Regions from separate parts of the Homo sapiens genome. Here regions 2, 3 and 4 are each linked to region 1. Evidence: fine-mapped expression QTL. A gene starts in region 1. Each other region holds a variant in brackets. All regions are shown on one strand. Distances are between the middles of the regions.

Region 1 (5,148 bases):
GCCAAGGGTAGGATGACGTGGACCTTAGGAAAGGAGCCAGGGCTCTGTGGTCTGATCCTCTGCCTGAGCACTGTTCCCACCAACCCAAGCCCATTGAAAAGGTTTGGGACACCAAGAGGTAGCAGGTTCCTGCGTTTAGACTGTAACCAGCACGTGATACCAAGCCTGTAAGTATTTGCCTTTCATTCAATTTAACAAATATTGATTAAACAAATACCATGCACTAGGCACTATACTGGGCATTGGGTATACACACGTTAGCAAGACAAATAGAGTTTCCAGTCAAGTGGGGGAGGCAAATAGTACATAGCTACAAAGAAGCTATGAAGAAAAAGAACAGGAGATTAATGGGGGCTTTCTCATTTAGATTGGGAGACCAGGGATGGGCTGAGAAAGTAATATTTGATCTGAGACTGGAAGAATGAAAGTTAGCCGCTTTAAGTAGATAGGAGTAGTATTTCAGGCAGAGGGGAACAGTGTGTGCCAAGTCCCTGGAATATGAAGGAGTGCATGAGAGGAACTGAAAGAAAAGGCCAGGATGGCTGTAGTATAGTAAATAAGGAAGGGGCATGGGTCCAGATGGTGCAGGGCTTTGTGAGCCATAGTAAGATATTTGTGTTTCATACGAAGTGCAACGGGAAGCCATTGAAGTTTGGCAGATTAAATGTGGTACGTGTATTAGTACTACCAAACTTGTGGCAGGCCCTGAGAGACTTACTTTGGTTGTTTATTCATCAATACCTACAATAAATGTTTAAAGGGTACCCAGCAACCCTGTGCTAGAATTATGGGCTGACAGTCATGGTAGGGAGATGTCTAAGGCACAGACCTTCCTCACAGCCTGTGGTCCAGAAGAGATTAGATAACTACAGTGATTGAATCAAGAAGTCATGTAATTTATTCTCAACAACTGTAAACTACACACCTAATCTATTCCAAACCCTGTGCTGGATGCTGGTTGTTGCCCTTCAAGGATCACACACTGCACAGGGGTCAAGGAGAGGTACAAACGTGCTCAAAGAATTTGGAGTGGGTTAGAATCATTTTCTAACCCACTGTAATCATTATCATGCCTGCGAATCTCTGAGGTCTTTATAAAACATCCATTTATTCAATCACCTAATAAATCAGTAAACATCTAGTGGGCATATGCTTTGCACCAGGAACTGTGCCAGCTACTGAAGTCAAGGACCTTAGAGTTCTATAGCAGAGACAGACATCCCCCACAAAAAAACATGAAAATATTAGGTGCTACAAACAGGACAGCAAGCTCTCCATAGATCAGCATTGAGGGAGGGTAATTCAGTGGAAGAAGGACCTTCCCCAAATGGGAAGCTCCTAACTTCCTGAGTGCATTTGTCCATACCTTCCTTTACCTGATTACTCTTTTTATTCTTTTTTTTTTTTCTTTAAGGCTGATTTTTAGTGGCAGCCTTCCTTCTGACTTTGGGCTGTCCCCAACTTCCCCTCCCCACCCCAGTAGACCCCAGTAGACTTCATTTTCTTTGTCTTGACATCCTTTAAAAAGCCAAAAGTCTCCAACATTTGAGCCTGGCTTCTCTCTAATTATGGTTGTGTGTGATCTCAAACAATTAACTTCCCTGAGCCCGTTTTCCCATTTGTACAATGAAGGGATTGGATCACATCTAAGGCTTATGATTTACTCCAGTAAGTATTCACACTCTTGCACACACTGCTCTGCACGGCCTTCCTTTCTTTGTACCGCTGCACTCATACTTCCACTCCTGTGCCACATGGCAAACATCAAGACTCAACTCAATAATATCCTATCTTCCAGCAAGTCTTCCCTGTATATACAATAAAACACACACACACACACACGTGCGCACACACAACTGTGTGTGTCTTCCTTTATGCTACCACTACCTCGTGAGAGGGCCACAGAATGAAAAGGGCAAGGGAGGTATAAGACTTGGGTTTGGGCCAGGCGCGGTGGCTCACGCCTGTAATCCCAGCACTTTGGGAGGCCAAGGCGGGCGGATCACAGGGTCAGGAGTTTGAGACCATCCTGGCTAACATGGTGAAACGCCACCTCTACTAAAAATACAAAAATTAGCCGGGCGTGGTGGCACGCGCCTGTTATCCCAGCTACTCGGGAGGCCGAGGCAGGATCGCCTGAACCTGGGAGGTGGAGGTTGCAGTGAGCCGAGATTGTGCCATTGCCCTCCAGCCTGGGCAACAAGAGAAAAAATTCCGCCTCAGAAAAAAAAAAAAAAAAAAAGACTTGGGTTTGCATCGTGGTCTCTCACCTTTTGAACCTCAGTTTCTCACCTGTAACAGGAGGGAATACCTAATTTGGATGTCTAATTAGTTTATGGGGATTAGAAACAATTCATGTCAAGTGCTTGGCACCTAAGAAGTGCTCAATAAATAGCGACTGTACCACACCTCCTAGGAGCCCTCAGCGTACTGAATTAGAGTTCTCTATAAGTCTCCGGCGCTAGACTGCGAACTGCCTGAGAGCATCCCTTCTGCAGCCGCGGGGCATAAGCGGCAAAGACTCGGGGCTGGCAGGCGCATAGGGAGTGGGGCGGGGCTGGCCGGGCCCAGAGGAACGCGGCTCGGATTCCCGGGGGAAGGCCAAGCGGGGCGGACCCCATCTCCGGGAAGTGACGCCATGGGGACGAGCGGCACCAGAGCCGGGGCCAGTCGGAGCGGGGCGCGCGCCGCATGGCGGAAGCGGAAGGGAGTTCTCTGCTCTTGTTGCCGCCGCCGCCACCCCCGCCCAGGATGGCGGAAGTGGAGGCGCCGACGGCGGCCGAGACGGACATGAAGCAATATCAAGGCTCCGGCGGCGTCGCCATGGATGTGGAACGGAGTCGCTTCCCCTACTGCGTGGTGTGGACGCCCATCCCGGTGCTCACGTGAGTCTCTTCCGGCATCCGCCTGGGGACGAGGAGGGCCCAGGGAGAGCCGGAGTCGGGCCGGGCTAGCCTCCGGCCCCAACGCGCAGCAAGCCTTTTCCTCGGGTCTGGCCCGCACGCCTCGCCCAGTCACCAGAACCCCGCCATCCATGTAGTGCCAGTTTGTGCACACGGCTGGGACACGCTCCCTGCTCTCAATACACCTGGTGTAGCCAGGGAGAGAGTTGTAGGCCAGCAGGAAAGGGCAAGTGGCTGGGAGACTCGAGCTGTGAGTGTGTAGAAGAGGGAGCCCCTTATCGGATCTGAGGAGACATTTTTATTAATTCACTGGTTTATTCTCTCATTGAGCAAATGCTTACTGGTCGCTTACCATATTCCAGACATACTGCTGGGTCTGGGAGCAAGAGTGGGAGTTTGGTTGGGACCACACGAGATCCTGGGATGTCAACATTGGAAGGGCCCCCAGAGATCTGAGAGTCCAACCCTTTGTCTCACGTGCCATCTCAGTTGCAAACTGGGTTTAGATCCCAGGTTGTCTGCCTCCCAGACCAAAGTTCTTTCTGTAACATCAGCCTTTGTCAGGGGAGAAGCAGGTGCTCTGGTACTACTTGGCGCCTTTTGGGAGGAGCTCTCATATGGGGAGAGGTGGTTTGCCCTCCTGCTTCAACCTTGACAGCTGATAAACGTAACCCCTCCTCACCGTGCTGGATAGTTTGCCAAGCTCTTAAACACCCATTTTATCAGAATTAAACATCCATTTTCTAAGGTAGGTTATCTTCTCAGATGGTGAAGCTGAGCTGCTTGTAGCATTAAGTGTCTTGATCAGGTTCGCACCCCAATAAGCAAAGGCATGAAGAGCTCAGTCTTCTGATCTAACTTGCTCTTTGCACTACATCTTATCCACTCTCACCTGATGGGATAGCTTGTTCCGCTATCAATAACAGCCAGTGGTGATGTGGAGAAGGGATCATTTGGGGCCTTAGGTGTTGCTGATTCTAAAAAGATCGTAGTTTTTGAATTATGTTAAAATACTTGAATTATTTTGTGTTTTCAAGTACTTATGCATATAAGAGCATCCAAATCTGTTCTTTAAAAATAAAATATTGGGACAGGCGCGGTGGCTCATGCCTGTAATCCCAGCACTCTGGGAGGCAGTGGAGGGTGGATCGGTAGGTAGTTCGAGACCAACCTGGCCATCGTGGCGAAACCCGTCTCTACTAAAAATACAAAAATTAGCTGGGCATAGTGGCACGTGCCTGTAATCCCAGCTACTCTGGAAGCTGAGGCAGGAGAATCGCCTCAACCCGGGAAGTGGAGTTTGCAGTGAGCCGAGATTGCACCACTGCACTTCAGCATGGGCAACACAGTGAAACTCCGTCTCAAAATAAATAGTGAAATAAAATCTTAGGAAAATGTGCACATTAATTCATTCAGTGTTCTTCTAACACATGTGCTAAGTGACCCCTGTGTTCCCAGATAGTTCTAGGTGATGCGAATATACAGTGATGAATAAAGGAGATATGGTCTTTAGACTTTTGAGAGTTTAAGTCATAGTGGAAGGAGATAGACAGTAAACAAGTAAGCTAATAAAAGAGCACCTGATAGTGATGAGTGCTGTGAAGAAAATAAAATATTAGTGTGAAAATAACAGGGGCCGGGCGTGGTGGCTCAGGCCTGTAATCCCAGCACTTTGGGAGGCCCAGGCGGGCGAATCACCTGAGGTCAGGAGTTCAAGACAAGCCTGACCAACATGGAGAAACCCCATCTCTACTAAAAATACAAAATTAGCCGGGGTGGTGGCACATGCCTGTAATCCCAGCTACTCAGGAGGCCGAGGCAGGAGAATCACTTGAACCCGGGAGGTGGAGGTTGCGGTGAGCCAAGATCGTGCTTTTGCACTCCAGCCTGGACAACAAGAGCAAAACTCCGTTTCAAAAAAAAAGAAAATAACTGGGAGGGATACTCAGGAAATGTATTGGTTTTCTTAAAACCTGTCTTGTGATCCTAAACTCTCTTTAGCCTTTCTTATTCTCAAAAACACCATCTGTGGCGTGGTCCTCTGCGGAGAATGGTAGCAGCGTGAGGTGGAGGCACCACAATCCCTTGTCACCTGGGCCAAAAGCAGCTCATAGCCCATTTCTATTCAGATCTGTGTACAGGTGTTCATAAGACCAAGATGAATAAGACACTGTGTTCCTGTCAAAGGGTTCATGTTCCCTTCTGTGTTAGTCCATTCTTGCACTAATACTTGAGACTGGATAAT
Region 2 (5,148 bases), 47 kb before region 1:
GGCAACCCCAGCCTTGTCTCTAAAAAAATAAAAATAAACTACATATATAGAAATTTGTATTTATCTATTATTTCCAGCTCTGTCCACGCAAAGGTAATTTAGAAGCAGTAATACCATAGTAATTATGGGTTACTAGTTTCTAAATGCCATTCTCTATTAAAAGGAAGCAGGGATCCTTGGAGAAATAACTAATTCTAGTCTTGGGACAGGGCAAAAGTTGATATAGTCTTCAAAAATTTCAGTGTCATAGGAAACAAAAAAGGGCTGAGGAACTGTCTCAGATTAAAAGAAACAGAAAATGACTAATTTTCTTTTTCTTTTCTTTTTTTTTTTTTTTTTTTTGAGATGGAGTCTCGCTCTGTCAGCCAGGCTGGAGTGCAGTGGCACGATCTTGGCTCACTGCAACCTCTGCCTCCCAGGTTCACGCCATTCTCCTGCCTCAGCCTACCAAGTAGCTGGGACTACAGGCGCCCGCCACCACGCCCGGCTAATTTTTTGTATTTTTAGTAGAGACGAGGTTTCACCATGTTAGCCAGGATGGTCTTGATCTCCTGACCTCGTGATCTGCCTGCCTCAGCCTCCCAAAGTGTTGGGATTACAGGCGTGAGCCACCGTGCCCGGCCAGTGACTAATTTTCTTAATGACATTAAGAAAACATAAACCAAATGCAGTGTGTGATCCTGGATTGGATTCTGAATGAGGAAAATAAAATGGACATTATTGGACAGTTAGTGAAATTTGAATATGGACTATACGTTAGACAACAGTATTGTATCAGTGTTAAATTTTCTGATTTTGATAAATATGCGCTGGTTAAATAAAAGAATGACCAATGTTCTTAAGAATTATACACTGAAGTATTTAAGTGTAAGGGGTCCTGAAGTCTACAACTGATTTCTCAAATGGTTCAGAAAAAAAGTACTAAGTACTTTACACGTGTGTGTGTGTGTGTGTGTGCGTGTGTAGAGAGAGAGAAAGGAGAGGGAGGGAGAGGGAAAAAGATTATTTAATTTATCAATTAGGTAAAATGTATATATGGGCATTCTTATACTATTCTTGCAAACTTTTTATGTTTGAAATTGTTTCAAAATAGAAAGTTTAAATTGTTCATTAGGAAAATACAAAGGGCTGAGCATAGTGGCTCACACCTGTAATCCTATCACTTTGGAGGCTGAGGTGGGAGGATCACTTGAGCCCAGAATTGTGACCAGCCTGGGCAACATAACAGGACCTCATCTCTACAAAAAAATACAAAAATTAACCAGGTGTGGTGGTGTGTGCTTGTACTCCCAGCTACTAGGGAGTCTAACATGGGAGGATTGCTTGAGCCTAGGAGGTTGAGGCTGCAGTGAGCCATGATCATACCACTTACTCCAGCCTGGGCAATGGAAGGAGACACTGTCTTTAAAAAAGAGAGAGAGAGAGAGGGAAAGAAAAAAGAAAAGAAAATACAGAGAACTGGCTGGGGCACAGTGGCTCATGCCTATAACCCCATACTTTGGCAGTCAGGAGAATCATTTGAGGCCAGGAGTTTGAGACCAGCCTGGGCAACACAGCAAGACCCCATCTCCATAAAACATTTTTTAAAAGTAAAAGAAAATACAAAGAACTGTTGTAGTGGCAGCAACCAAGTAAGAGAGCCAGAAGGGAGGTTGAGATTAAACAATTTAAATTTAAATTAATGAGGATTAATTTAAGCCGTTCTAGTATATAAGACCCAATCAGTTTTCCACTTTCCTTGGACATTTTTGCTGAGCATTCCACATCCCTCTTTAGTTACATGTGCCAGCTCATCTCATGAGTTTTATTGTCACAACTGACAAGAACCAAATATCCTGGGATTCCAGCCATGGCCTGCAGTCCTCACTTTTTTGGGGAGTTGCTTGCTTTCATTTTGTATGTATTACCAGGGATCTCCCAAGATCACCTTGGAAGTTGTGATCACACTTTGATTCCTGCTATTTCATTCACTTGTGGGATTTCTTGGCACCGTATTAGACACATGGTAGAGAGAAGAAGAAAGGAATCTCACTTTACAAATCAGAGTAAAACTCAGCATTTCTAAGGTCAGATAAGTGGTAGAAATAAGATTTAAAAGATTTATATCAGGCTTATCTGGCTGCAGAGTTCATATCCTTTCCACCTCAACCATATGTCTGTTTTAAAAATGGCTTAATAGATAGTTCCTGGCTTGGTGGATTTATTCTCTTGCCTTATTAGTTTTCTTCATATTATCCTTAAACAATTGCAAACATTATGTATCTATCTCACCTTTACAATCTGGCCTGCTTGCTTTTTCCATTTTGTTTCTTATATTATTTTAGCATACATTCAAATTATGAATTTATGGAAACAAGTCATATGAAACTAGATTGATTTCCTTTGTGAATAGCTTTGGTAGACCAGAGCAGTTCCATGGGCATAGTGTAACCTTATTCTAACAAAGACTTGTCAGAGCTTTTTAAGGTAATACCATTTTAGAGAAGTAAACTAGATACCAAGTTCATTAAACAGTCATGTTTAAAGAAAAAGATGCCAGCCTGGCCAACATGGTGAAACCCCTTCTCTACTAAAAATACGAAAAATTAGCCAAGCATGATGGCAGGCACCTGTAATCCCAGCACTTGGGAGGCTGAGGCAGGAGAATTGCTTGAACCCAGGAGGCGGAGGTTGCAGTGAGCCGAGATTGCACCACTGCACTCTAACCTGGGCGACAGAGTGAGACTCTGTCTCAAAAAAAAAAAAAAAATAAAGAAAAAGATGGAGCGGGGATCTGACTTTGTGAGAGATTTCCTTTCGTGAGGACTGTCCTTTAAATCCAGATCAGCAATTTGTGGCCAGTGGGCCAAATCCAGAATGTCGCCTGTTTGCTTGTTTGTTATTTTATTTAATTGAGTGGTTTTGACTATTCACAAACTATACTCACAAAGTTTTGCAACCATCCCTGCTATCTAATTCCAGGATGTTTTCATCACCCCAAAAAGGAACCTCTTACCCATCTTAGCAGTCACTTCCTTCTCCCATACTGGCCCTACCCCAGAAACCACTAATCTATTTTCTGTTGCAATGGATTTTCCTATTCTGAACATTTCACGTAAATGAAATTATAAAGT[G/A]TGTGGCTTTTTAGCATAATGCTTTTAAGATTCATCTATGTTATAGTATGAATCTGTACTTCTCTTTTTTGCGGCCAAATAGCATTCCATCATTTGGATGTACCACATTCTGTCTATCCATTCATCAGTTGGTGGAACATGTGGTTGTTTCTATTTTTTGGCTATTATAAATAATGCTGCTATGAACCTTCATGTACAAGTTTTTGTGTGGACATGTTTTCTTCACTTTTCTTGGTATATACCGAAGGGTGGAATTGCTGGGTCATATGGTAACTCAGTGTTTAACTTTTTTGAGGAACTGCCAAACTGTTTTCCAAAGTGGTACCACCATTTTACATTCCCACCAGAAATGTGTGAGGGTTCCAATTTGTCTGCATCCTTGCCAACACTTCTTATTATCAATATTTTTTATTATAGGCCAGGCGCGGTGACTTATGCCTATAATCCCACACTTTGGGAGGCCGAAGCAGGCAGATCACAAGGTCAGGAGATTGAGACCATGCTGGCTAACACAGTGAAACCCCATCTCTACTAAAAATACAAAACTTAGCCAGGTGTGGTGGCACACACCTGTAGTCCCAGCTACTTGGGAGGCTGAGGCAGGAGAATTGCTTGAACCCAGGAGGAGGAGATTGCAGTGAGCCGAGATTGCGCCACTGCACTCCAGCCTGGGTGACAGAGCAAGACTTCGTCTCGAAAAAAAAAAAGAAAAGAAAAAAAAATTTTTTTTTTATTATAGCCCTCCTGGTGGGTGTGAAGTGGTATCTCATTGTGGTTTTGATTTTCATTTCCCTAATGACTAATGATGTTGAGCATGTTTTCATGTGCTTGTTGTCATATTTGTGTATTTTCTTTGGAGAAATGTCTGTTGAGATGCTTCACTCATTTTTTAATTGGGTTGTCCTTTTTTATTGTTGAGTTATAAGATATGTATGATTTGAAATTTTGTTTCTTTTCCTTTGTGTGTTGTCTTTTCATTTTTAAATGGTGACTTTGCATAAAAGTTTTAATTTTAATGAAATTCAATTTATGTTTTATTTTTTTTTTTTAATTGATATGGGATCTGTCTCTGTAACCCTCACTGGAGTGCAGTGGCACAGTCATGGCTTACTGCAGCCTTACCCTCCCAGGCTCAAGCAATCCTCCCATCTCACCCTCTTGAGTAGCTGGGACTGCAGGCGCACACCACCATGCCCAACTAAACTTTTTTTCTTTTGTTGCTGGTGCTTTTGGTGTTGTGTCTTAAAAAACATTGCCTAATCCAAGGTCATGAATATATACACCTGTGTTTTCTTCTAAGAGTTTTGTAGTTTTAGATTTTATATGTAGGTCTTTGATCCATTTGAATTAATTTTTATGTATGGTGTGAGGTAAGGATCCAACTTCATTCTTTTACATGTGGACATCCACTTGTCCTGGCACCATGTGCTAAAAAGACTATTCTTTCCTTCTACTTAATTGCTTGACACTCTTTTTTTTTTAAGAGACGGAGTCTGGCTATGTTGCACAGGCTGGTCTCAAACTCTTAGTCTCAAGTGATCTTCCTGTCTTAGTCTCCCAAATAGCTGGGATTATAGGTACAAGCCCCTGTTCCCAGCCTGTCTTGATACTCTTATCAGAAATCAATTGACTGTAAATTTAAGGATGTATTTATGAACTCTCAACTCTAGTCCATTGATCTAAATGTCTATTCTTATGCCAGTACCACACTGTTTTGATTGCTGTAGCATTGTAGTAAGTTATAAAATTGGGAAGTATGAGTCTTTCAACTTTGTTCATTTTTCAAGATTGTTTTGTCTATTCTGGGTCTCTGGTATTTCCATATGAGCTTTATTTTATTTTAATTTGAAAAAAATTTTTTGAGACAGAGTCTCACTCTGTTGCCCAGGCTGGAGTGCAGTGGCATGATCTTGGCTCACCGCAACCTCCACTTCCTGGTTTCAAGCGATTCTCCTGCCTCAGCCTCCTGTGTAGCTGGGATTACAGGCATGCATGATGACACCCAGCTAATTTTTTTTGTGTTTTAGTAGAGATG
Region 3 (5,148 bases), 130 kb before region 1:
GGCAAAGAGCAAAACCAATTCAAGTCTTCAGAAGACTGCATGGGTTTAAAAGTGCTCTGGGGGAATTTCATCTTTCAGGGGAGAAGGAAATGGTTTTATAGTAAAATCCTTATTCCTTTCAGGGTATTCAGTGCCTATTTCTGACCCCTGCCGTGACTGGAGTGGTCACAGCATGGAGAGAATCTCTGACCTCAAAGCCATGCCCTTCTTTTTGCCCAGAAGGGTGCGTCGCCATATCTGCATGTGTCCCTCCTCACTTCATTCAGGTCTCTGCCTAAAAATCAGAGAAGCCTTCTCTGATCACCCTATCCAAATGACAACCTCCATGTGTAGCCTCATAATCAGTCTAATTTGTCTTCATAGCACCTACCACGCCTTGACATATTTATAGACATTTCTTTGCTTATTGTCTGTCTCCACCCACTAGAATGTAAACTCCAGGAGGACAGGACCTGGTCTGTTTTGTTCACTGCTGTATTCTCAGTGCCTGGGATGGTGCCTGACATATAGTAGGCCCCTAACAAATATGTGGGTTTTTTTGTTTGTTTGTTTTTTGTTTTTTGTTTTTGAGACAGAGTATTGCTCTGTTACCCAGGTTGCAGTGCAGTGGCACGATCTCGGCTCACTGCAACCTCCACCTCCCAGGTTCAAGCGATTCTCCTGCTTTAGCCTCCTGAGTAGCTGGGATTACATGCTTTTGCCACCATGCCTCACTAATTTTTGTATTTTAAGTAGGGGCAGAGGTTTCACCATGTTGGCCAGGCTGATCTTGAACTCATGGCCTCAAGTGATCCACCCACCTCAGCTTCCCAAAGTGCTGGGATTACAGGTGTGAGCTCCCACCCCCAGTCACAAATATGTGTTGAATGAATACAAAGGGAAAATTCAGCTTGCTTTCACTAAGAGCATTTGACACTCCCGCTTCCATCAGCTGCTAAATTCGTCTTACCCCTCAAAGCCTTGCTCCTTTGTCCTCTCTTCAGGGACTTCTCCCTCATCTTCCCCAGCCCAGGGATTGATACAGCCACCCAACCAGCTGCTCCAGCCAGGAACTGGAAGATACCCTCACCTCCTCCTTCTTTCTTCCCACCTCTGCTCCCCGACTCCCCATTACTTCCAGTGTTCAATTAATCACCAACTCCAGTCCACTCTGCCTCTTTTTAAAAGTTTTTGGGACAGGGTCTCACTCTGTTGCCCAGGCTGGTCTCGAACTCCTAGGCTCAAGTAGTCCTCCCACCTCTGCCTCCCAAAGTGCTGGGGTTACAGGCATGAGCCACCGTGCCTGGCCTCCATTCTGCCTCTTAATTATCTCCTAAATCTGCTCATATCTCCCAATATTTGCTACACCCCCCCTACCAGGCAACCCTCCTATTTTCACTGGGTTACTGCACCAACTTTCTCACCAGCCTCCTGCCTCCAGTTTGGCCCCTGCCAGTCAGTCTCCATATTGCAATCAGTGATTGGTGTAAAGCTCAAATTTTCTCGGTAAACAAAGCATTGAGTCCTTAGTGGCCTGAGATAAAGTCCAAGATCTTAATGTGGGTTACAAAGCCCTGCCCCATCTGACCACAGCCTCATTCTTAGCCATACTCTGCTCCTGCCTCTTTGAACTATTTCCAGTTCCCCAAATGTGCTCCTGATAGTTATTTTGCCTGGGAGCTCAGGCCAACTCCTGCTCATCATTCAGGCCTCAGCTCGGATGTTGCTTTCTCCAGGAAAGCCTCCCTGACTTCTGTCCAACCAGGCTGGGCTAGAGGTCCTTAGTGTATCTTAGGGTATAGAATCAGGGCATTCTCCCTACCTGGAGGACTGCTGGTGGTCACTGGTCCAATTTCCACCCTTTTCCGTTTCTTGATAGTGTCACTGCTTAAATAGCCTTCTCTGCTTCTCCGATGCCTCTCACCCTTCAAGACCTATCTTTCTAGACTTGTTATCTAGAAAACTCTCTGGGGAGTAAAAAGAAGGCAGCCTCTGAGTGAGGATGCCCCAAGCTCAAGCCACCTCTGCCACTTCTTAGTGATACAACCTTGGGCATGTCATTGTAAAATGGAGATGATAACGTTAATATCTACCTCACAGTTGTTATAAGTAAAATTATAAATGTTAAAGGACAATTGGCCGGGCGCAGTGGCTCATGCCTAGAATCCCATCACTTTGGGAGGCCAAGGCGAACGGATCATCTGCGGTCAGGAGGTCGAGACCAGCCTGGCCAAC[A/G]TGGCGAAACCCTATCTCTACTAAAAACACAAAAATTAGTAGGGCGTGGTGGCACATGCCTGTAATTTCAGCTACTCAGGAGGCTGAGGCAGGAGAATTGCTTGAACCTGGGAGGCAGAGGTTGCAGTGAGCCGAGACTGTGCCATTGCACTGTAGCCTGGGCGACAAGAGCGAAACTCCATCTCAAAAAAAAAAAAAAAAAGAAAGAAAGATGTTAAAGGACAATGTAAACACTGCGATGTGTTATGGAGACGTGAGAATGATTATTCTCTGCTGGCACTGTGCTCCTGCAGCACTCACAGGCTGTGACCTGCCATTTGCATTTCATTATATCCTGCCTCCAGTGACCTGCTCTCTGCAACCAGTGTGGAAGCCAGCTAGGTTCTCTTCTCTAGCTCTTCCGCATCCCCTAGAGTTCAGAGATTAGTGGTGAGTAAATAGAAGGTGTATGTGATTATAACCAACTACCATTTATTTATCACCTACTATGCACTAATTACTTTACATATATTACAGTCAGGTACTGCATAATGATGTTTTACTCAACTACAGACCACATATACAGCAGTAGTTCCATAAGATTGGAACACCATGTTTTTATTGTACCTTTTTTATGATTGGGTATGTTTAGATACACAAATACTTACCATCATGTTACAATTGCCTACGGTGTTCAGTACGCTAACATGGTGTATAGGTTTGTAGCCTAGAAGCAATAGGCTGTGCCATATAGCCTAGGTGTGTAGGAGGCCATACTACCTAGGTTTGTGTAAGTACACTCTATGATGTTTACATGATGAAATCGCCTAATAACGCATTTCTCAGAATGTATCCTTGTTGTTAAGTAACGCATAGCTGTATTTCTTTTTCTTTTTCTTTTCTTTTTTTTTTTTTTGAGACGGAGTCTCACTCTGTCACCCAGGCTGGAGTGCAGTGGCGTGATCTTGGCTCACTGCAACCTCCACCTCCCAGGTTCAAGTGATTCTTCTGCCTCAGCCTCCCAAGTAGCTGGGACTACAGGCACACACCACCACGCCTGGCTAATTTTTGTATTTTTAGTAGAAACGGGGTTTCACCCTATTAGCCAGGCTGGTCTCGAACTTCTGACCTCGTGATCCGCCTGCCTCAGCCTCCCAAAGTTCTGGGATTACAGGCTTGAGCCACCACACCTGGCCCACATAGCTGTATTTCTAATTCTCAGAACTACCTGGGAGACAAGTAATTTTATCTCCACGATGCAACCTAAGGCTTAGAAAAATTAAATAACTTGCCGGGTGTGGTGGCTCACGCTTGTAATCCTAGCACTTTGGGAGGCCGAGGCGGGCGGATTGCCTGAGTTCAGGAGTTGGAGAACAGCGTGGGCAACACGGTGAAACCCCGTCTCTAATAAAATACAAAAAATTAGCTGGGCGTGGCGGCATGCGCCTGTAGTCCCAGCTACTTGGGAGGCTGAGGCAGGAGAATTGCTTGAACCCGGAAGGTGGAGGTTGCAGTGAGCCGAGATCATGCCACTGCACTCCAGCCTGGTGACAGAGCGAGACTCCATCTCAAAAAAAAAAAAAAAAGAAAGAAAGAAAGAAAGAAAGAAAAATTAAATAACTTGTCCAAGGTCACAGAGCTGTTGAGGTTAGGGACCTTGGGAATCTTTCTGGCACTTCCCCCAGCTTGATGTTAACAGGCTCATGGCCTTCCTCCTGCCGTTTCCTCTCTTGGTCATAAGCTGAGCTGTGTCCAGAGAAAGAGAAAAAATAAATCAAACTTGGGGCCTGGCAAAGGAGGTGAGTGTCATGCCACAGACCAGACACAGGGCAGGAGGAGACTTTTATTTTCTTTTATTTTATTTTTGAGACGGAGTTTCACTCTTGTCGCCCAGGCTGGGATGCAGTGGTGCAATCTCAGCTCACTGCAACCTCCGCCTCCCAGGTTCAAGCAATTTTCCTGCCTTAGCCTCCCAAGTAGCTGGGATTACAGGTGCCTGCCACCACGCCCAGCTAATTTTTGTATTTTTAGTAGAGACGGGGTTTCACCATGTTGGCCAGGCTGGTCTTGAACTCCTGACCTCAGGTGATCCTCCCGCCTCGGCCTCCCGAAGTGCTGGGATTACAGGCGTGAGCCACCGCACCCAGCCAGGAGGAGACTTTTAAAATGAAAATTAAGATACAGCTCCACCCAAAGCACTGTCACAAAGTCCTGGTTCTGTGAATGTAGAGTGTGACAGGTGGTCAGGAAAAGCCCTGCGACATCTTCTAGCTGTGTCAGCACTGAAGTGATGCCCACATCTTACACATGGAAAGTAGATCGGAGTGGGATCTGTTAGCCAGATCACTCACAGTAAGGGAATGGTCCGCTATTACAAGGGTTTCTATCCTCTATGACAAAGATTTTAATTTAGGAAGAGAAGATGCAGGGTTCATAGTGAGCCACAAGGTGGCACTGTGAGAGGAGGGCACACAAAGTACCGAATTAGAACCTCTGGACGTGAAGGATTAGAAGAGATTTTACAGCAGAGAAATACAAAGTAAACGCCTCCTTTTACAGAAGAGATATGAGGTCCAGAGAAGTTATCCAAGTTGTAGAGTTTTGTGGTTAAGCCAGTACCAGAGACCCAGGTCTGTCTGTTTCTAAGTGTGGTGCACTTAACCTGTAATGCTCACCAAATCACATCTACAGATTCCCACCCATTGCATGGTGTGATCTTACTCAAGTCACTGATGTATTTCTGGGTCTCAGTCTTCCTGACCATAGAATGTAGGACTAGTCTAGATCTGGTTTTCTTTTTCTTTTTCCTTTTTTTTGAGACGGAGTTTTGCTCTTGTTGCCCAGACTGGAGTACAATGACGTGATCTCAGCTCACTGCAACCTCCGCCTCCTGGGTTCAAGCGATTTTTCTGCCTCAGCCTCCCGAGTAGTTGGGACTATGGGCGCATGTCACCA
Region 4 (5,148 bases), 38 kb after region 1:
TGCAGCAGGCTCAGCCCCGAACTCTCCTCCGGAGACGCAGGCTCCTCGGCCGCAGGCTCCTCGGGCACCCTGGGCACAAGGGCGAGCTGCTGATTGAGGACGGGCAGCAACCGGCCAGTCACCTCTGTTGCCGGGTTTGAATCCTGGCTCTCCTACTTTTATGCCTACCTCACAGGCATGAACATAGATAAACCCCGCACTGAGAGGACACAACAAGTCCAAGTTAGAGTTGCCAGAACAGGGCATGGGGAGGCACCAAATGCCACATTCACAAGTGGTCAAGGTGCCCAGGTCCCCAGGGAGGGCTTTTGTAGGAGAGGAGAAAAAGGCAAAACCAGGCAAAAGGAACCCATCCCAGGAGCCTTGGTCTCACCGGAGCTGGCTGGTGCCCCCATAACTGAGGCAGCGCTTCGGGGGGCTGGGTGGGTGCTGAGAGGGTGCCTGAGGGCACGGGAATGTCTGAGACTGGGTGGTTGAGTTGGCTGAAGGAGTGGGACTGGCAGAAGGGGCATCTGAGGGAGGGACAGAGCCATCAGCTGGGCTCTCCTCCACCCTCACAGCTCCACAACTCCTCTGCCCTCCACTGTGCCCATCCCGCCACCCGCAAGCACCTGAGGGCCGTGGAGCATGTCGTGGGGAGCTGGGGCTGCGGCTCCTTTTCCCAGGCTGCAGGAAGGGGTCCCCCAGCAGTGTCTGGGCGCTGGCTCGGAGGCGGGGGTCTGGCTCAAAAGTTCGGAGGAGAAAGGCTTGGGCCTCGGCCGACAGAGAGCTGGGCATTGGCGGATGGACCTTGTACATACCCACCTGTGGGGGGAGGGTGAACAAGGGTGACATTCAGAGGTGTCCAAGGCCCAGGCTGGCCCTATGCCACTTCCATGGGCCAGGCCCAAAGAGGTCTCACCTGAAACATGGCAGCCTGTGGGCTCCCGAGCTCGTGGAAGGGGGGGCGACCTGTGGCCATCTCAATGACAGTGCAGCCCAGTGACCAGATGTCAGCTGCTTTCCCATACCCGCGTGGGCCCTGGTCAATGATTTCTGGGGCCATATACTGCAGAGTTCCTAGGACAGAAACAGGAGCACCAATGCCCATCTAGGCTTCATCATGGGGTTGGAGCAGGGAGGGGAATGCCGTCATCCTCAGGCCGACTGCACCCATACTGAACCTATCATCCAAAATATACCTCAACACCTATCCTGGTCATCAAACATCTATCCTGAGTTCCATCACCACCCTGGGCTCCATCGCCTGCCAAGGCTTCCGTCATTCATCCTGGGCTCCACCACATTCACAGACTCCATCACCCACAGTAGTGCTCCAGCACACATCCTGGATTGCCTCGTCCCCCTGAACTCCATCACCTGCTTTTTCCTCCAACTCCCACCTTGGCCTGCATCAACACTCCTCAAGTGCTAAAGTCAATTTCATCACTTCTCCAAGCTCCAGTTCCAGATGCCACCACCTCAGCCCTGGCCCAATCACTCACCCTGGGTTTCATTCCCCATTAGGACTCTAACTCCATGCCTAGGAGAAACCCCCTTCCCTGGAAAGTTCCAAGAGATCTTCTGCCCCAGGTCAGCATCCCCACTCACCACCCCCACACCTTGTTACCTGTGAAGGTCTCAGTGCAAGGTGTGATGCCTGCCAGCCGCTTGGAGGTGCCGAAGTCAGAAATCTTGAGCAGCCCACTGAAGGTGTTGATCAGCACATTGTCCCCCTGATTGACAGCCATTAGTGGACACTGGTCTGGGCCCCTGCCAGCAGAAGTAGACCCTCTTTCTGGGATCCCATCTCCTGGAGATCCCAGCCTGGTCCTGCCTCTGTCAACACTCTCCCCTTGCCATCCCACTTATATGCCCCTCTGGGAGCTGACAATTGGTTTGGCTTCAGAGCTGAACCTTTCCCCTCCTTCTCTAAGGAGCCTCCCTGATGAATTCCCTACCCTTTGCAACAGGTCTGCTCACTTAATCTAAACTGCCAGCCTGCGTCTGGGACCATGTTTCCTTCCCCGCCACCCTCAGCAGATGAGGGCGGGCCAGCCCCAGGGCTTACTTTTATGTCCCTGTGCACGATGTGGTTGTCGTGCAAGTAGCCAAGTCCCTGCAGGATCTGGCGGGTGTAGAAACTGATGGTGCTCTCGTTGTCCTTCAGGGGTCCCCACACCGACCGCAGCAAGGAGGACAGGCTGCCTGGGTGGGGACAGTCCAAGTTCATTCTTCCCACCCACTGGCTCCAGCCCACATCTCTCTGCTCAAGGCCCAGACACACCCATGTTGTAGCCCAACTCCATCACCCAGCGCCACTCCTCAGCTAATTCTAGGCTACACCACCCACACGCACTAGGGTGCATTTCCCCCTAGGGCTCTCTACCCCTGCCTGCCTCGGTCCCATGCTTCACACCTCGGTTTCATTCCCATCCCACACAGGGCAGGTACCTCCAGGCACTTCCTCCATGAAGATCTTAAGGTAGCCGCCCTGGCTAGCTGAGCCCAGATAGCGCACTATGTTCTTGTGGCGCAGGCGTCTGTGAAGAGCGATCTCTTCATGCAGGGGCTGAGAGAACCTGAGGGGAGGTAAGGGAGAGAGGAAAGGGACCGAGGTGGGCAGAGAAGCCCCGCCCATCCCACGCCAGCCTGGCCCCGCCCCAAGGACCCGCCCCGCCCACAAGCCCTCTCCGACCTTCCCCACCCTTACTACCCTGCCCACAGGACCCTCCAGACCTCAATCCCGCCCGCACGGTCCTGGCTGTTCCGCCCACGGGCCCAGTCCACAGGGCTCGAACTCTCAGGTCCTACGAGCCCGCC[C/T]ACTAGGCCCCGCCCACAGGAGCCGCTCCGCTCGTGGCCCGGCTCACTCGGCCCTCGCGAGCCCTCAGCCCCACCCGCGCTGCCACGCACCGCACCTGCTGTCCCGCTCCGGGATCTCCTTGATGGCGATGCGCACCCTCGTGTGGCGATCGCGGCCCGCGTACACCACCCCATACGTGCCCTTGCCCAGCACCAGCCGCTCGCCCGTCTCCGTGTACTCATAATCAAACTGCCGGGCGCGGGGTGAGATGGGAGTTCAGCAGGGCCCGCGGCCCCTCGCCCTCCGCGAGCTCCCAGTCCCGCGTCCTCACCTCCAACATCTCCCCCGCGCCCTCCGCCTCCTCCGCGGGCGCCGTGGAATCCGGGTTCGTCACCCAGGCCTGGATCAGGCCGCAGAACCTGAAGGTGGGGGAGGTCAGACCCGCGGGAGGGGCATCTTGGTCCCCACCTAAGCCGGAGCATCCAACGGACGTCGTCCCTTTCTTTCCCCCACTCCCCCCCGGGCATCCTGGCCCTCAGAGTACCCCGACCATGAAAGGCTGCGCACCACTGGCAGTGCCCTACGCTGGGGAAGCACAGCTGGACGTCCTGAGCCGGGGGGAGTGCATAGAGGAAGCAGCAGCGCTCGTCGCGCTTTGAGGCGCTGGGAAGGGATGAAGAACCCAGTAAGCGTCAGGCTGGGTGGCAGCGACCCTCACCTCCCGTCTTTCCAGTCACCCCAGGTCCCGCCTATCACCTGACTCCGCATATGGAGGCGACTGGGAAGGTCCAGCTGGAGGGAATGTCCTGCAAGAAGAAATGGGGTGTGATGGGGAGTGCTGGTGACAGGAGAGGGGTCTGAGGATGGGAGAAAGGCTCCACAGAAAAGGTCCTAGCAAAGGTGAGTGAGGGGCCTCAGCAGCGACTTCACCTGGGTCTCAGGCTCCAGCAGGCTCAGGGTCACTGTGCTTACTGGGTCAGTACCCCGAACCTCGAGCTTTGCAGGCAGCAGCACCTTGTTCATCTCCAGGACCAGCACCTGCAGGCAGTTGGGGAGTGGGGTCAGTCAGAAGGGGCTTACCCCTTTCCCGGGTCCACCACCCCTACAGGCCTCACCAAGCACTGGTCGCCCTGGGCACAGGCTGTCTTGAATGGTTGGCAGGACTGTAGCAAGAAGTGGAGCCAGAAGTGGGCACGGCGTGGTGGCCCTCCAGGGGGCTCTGGCGTGGGCCTGAAGTGCTGGTAGAGCAGGAAGGTCTCCATCACGGACACCAGGTACCTGCATGCAAAGCCACATCCTCAGTTCAGCCCAGGCACCAACCAGCACTGCCAGGGAGAGGAAACTGGCCTGGATATAGCTAGAACGTTGGCATGGGGTGCCACGGGCACTGGTCTAAAAGCAGCCAGGTCATTGGCTCAGGGTTCAGTCTAGCATGCCAATGGACATAGGTGCAGGAGCTGACAGCCCAGGTCAGGCCAAGAATGCAGAGGGGGCCACCTACCATATGGGGGCATTGAGCTTATACAGCTGCTCTGCAGCCAGCACCACCTGGGTGGGGTCATTGGCGAGGATCTGGGCTCCCAGGTAGAAACCCACATCCCAGTAATACTGCATCTTCTCCACGCAGCCTTTGCGGGCCAGCAGGCAGCCCAGCTTCATGCCTGGGGGAGAGAGGCATGGGCTCCAGTGAGTGTGGGTGCAGGGGTGAGTGAGGCCCACCATTTCTGTGGGCCCGAGTGTGGACATGAACATAGATATGAGTATGGCATTGAGTATGGCAAGATCTCGGGTGGGAACAGGAGCTCAGGCACAGGTATATGTGGAATTCAGGATGTAATGGACACGCAGATGTGAGTTTGGGAACATTTGTGGGTTTGAGGGCTCCTGAGGGCCCAGAACAGGTATGAGGACCCAGGTGTGGGTATGGGCAGGACAGTCCAAAATGGATGAGCTCATCCTAGCTCTTGCCCAGTGTGCTCTCTCCCTGCCCTCTTCCCAGGCCCCTCGGAACCCCTGTGGGTGACGAGACAAGAGCCAGGATCTGTGCTCACCTATTAGCCGGAGCTCTTTGGAATCCTCAAAGTGCTGCCCGGCAGCAATGAGGAGCACAGCTGCATTGATGCCTGAGTGAAGGCTGGGCTCTACGTCAAAAGCCTTGCGATACCTGGGGTGGGGGTAGGGGGCACAGGGCTGGACTGATGCCCACAGCACCACCCCTCATCTCACAGCTTAGCCCACCGGCCACTCACTGTGCTCTTTACCAGTGATAGGCCTGCTCCCGGTGCCCAGCATCCTGGAAACCCGAGCTGAAGAACATGTCCTTGTAGATACGGCCACACATGCAGTACAGATCGGGCGCCACAGAG

Which allele goes with the higher level. Positions count from the first base shown, and alleles are read on the strand shown. Sizes are in standard deviations (SD) of each study's normalised expression. Not every link is listed here.
With allele T in place of C in region 4, the expression in spinal cord of the gene that starts at base 2,657 in region 1 is higher (moderate effect, 0.55 SD a copy in GTEx).

What was found.
Region 2: its variant is fine-mapped to the expression of TMEM222 in whole blood (TOPMed, PIP above 0.99).
Region 3: its variant is fine-mapped to the expression of TMEM222 in lung (TOPMed, PIP above 0.99).
Region 4: its variant is fine-mapped to the expression of TMEM222 in spinal cord (GTEx, PIP 0.95).

The regions. Positions count from the first base shown.
Region 1 is chr1:27,319,507-27,324,654 of GRCh38, forward strand. It overlaps TMEM222 (transmembrane protein 222), which reads left to right and starts at 2,657. Exons shown (of 6, transcript NM_032125.3): 1 at 2,657-2,885. The coding sequence starts at 2,692. It also overlaps the pseudogene ACTG1P20. RefSeq lists enhancers at 2,071-2,617, 2,618-3,165, 2,665-3,014, 3,166-3,712.
Region 2 is chr1:27,272,885-27,278,032 of GRCh38, forward strand. All of the region lies in intron 3 of WDTC1 (WD and tetratricopeptide repeats 1), which reads left to right. Among named protein-coding and RNA genes, the nearest start is that of WDTC1, 41 kb to the left of the region's middle. The variant G/A (reference allele first, on the strand shown) is at 3,114.
Region 3 is chr1:27,193,468-27,198,615 of GRCh38, forward strand. No RefSeq gene overlaps it. Among named protein-coding and RNA genes, the nearest start is that of WDTC1-DT, 38 kb to the right of the region's middle. The variant A/G (reference allele first, on the strand shown) is at 2,215.
Region 4 is chr1:27,357,808-27,362,955 of GRCh38, forward strand. It overlaps MAP3K6 (mitogen-activated protein kinase kinase kinase 6), which reads right to left. Exons shown (of 29, transcript NM_004672.5): 7 at 5,044-5,148; 8 at 4,834-4,946; 9 at 4,284-4,443; 10 at 3,898-4,060; 11 at 3,713-3,820; 12 at 3,539-3,588; 13 at 3,350-3,445; 14 at 3,114-3,201; 15 at 2,898-3,031; 16 at 2,434-2,561; 17 at 2,051-2,187; 18 at 1,610-1,715; 19 at 902-1,059; 20 at 612-804; 2 more. Among named protein-coding and RNA genes, the nearest start is that of MAP3K6, 6.6 kb to the right of the region's middle. RefSeq lists enhancers at 1,647-2,182, 2,183-2,718, 2,813-2,942 and a silencer at 3,033-3,102. The variant C/T (reference allele first, on the strand shown) is at 2,803.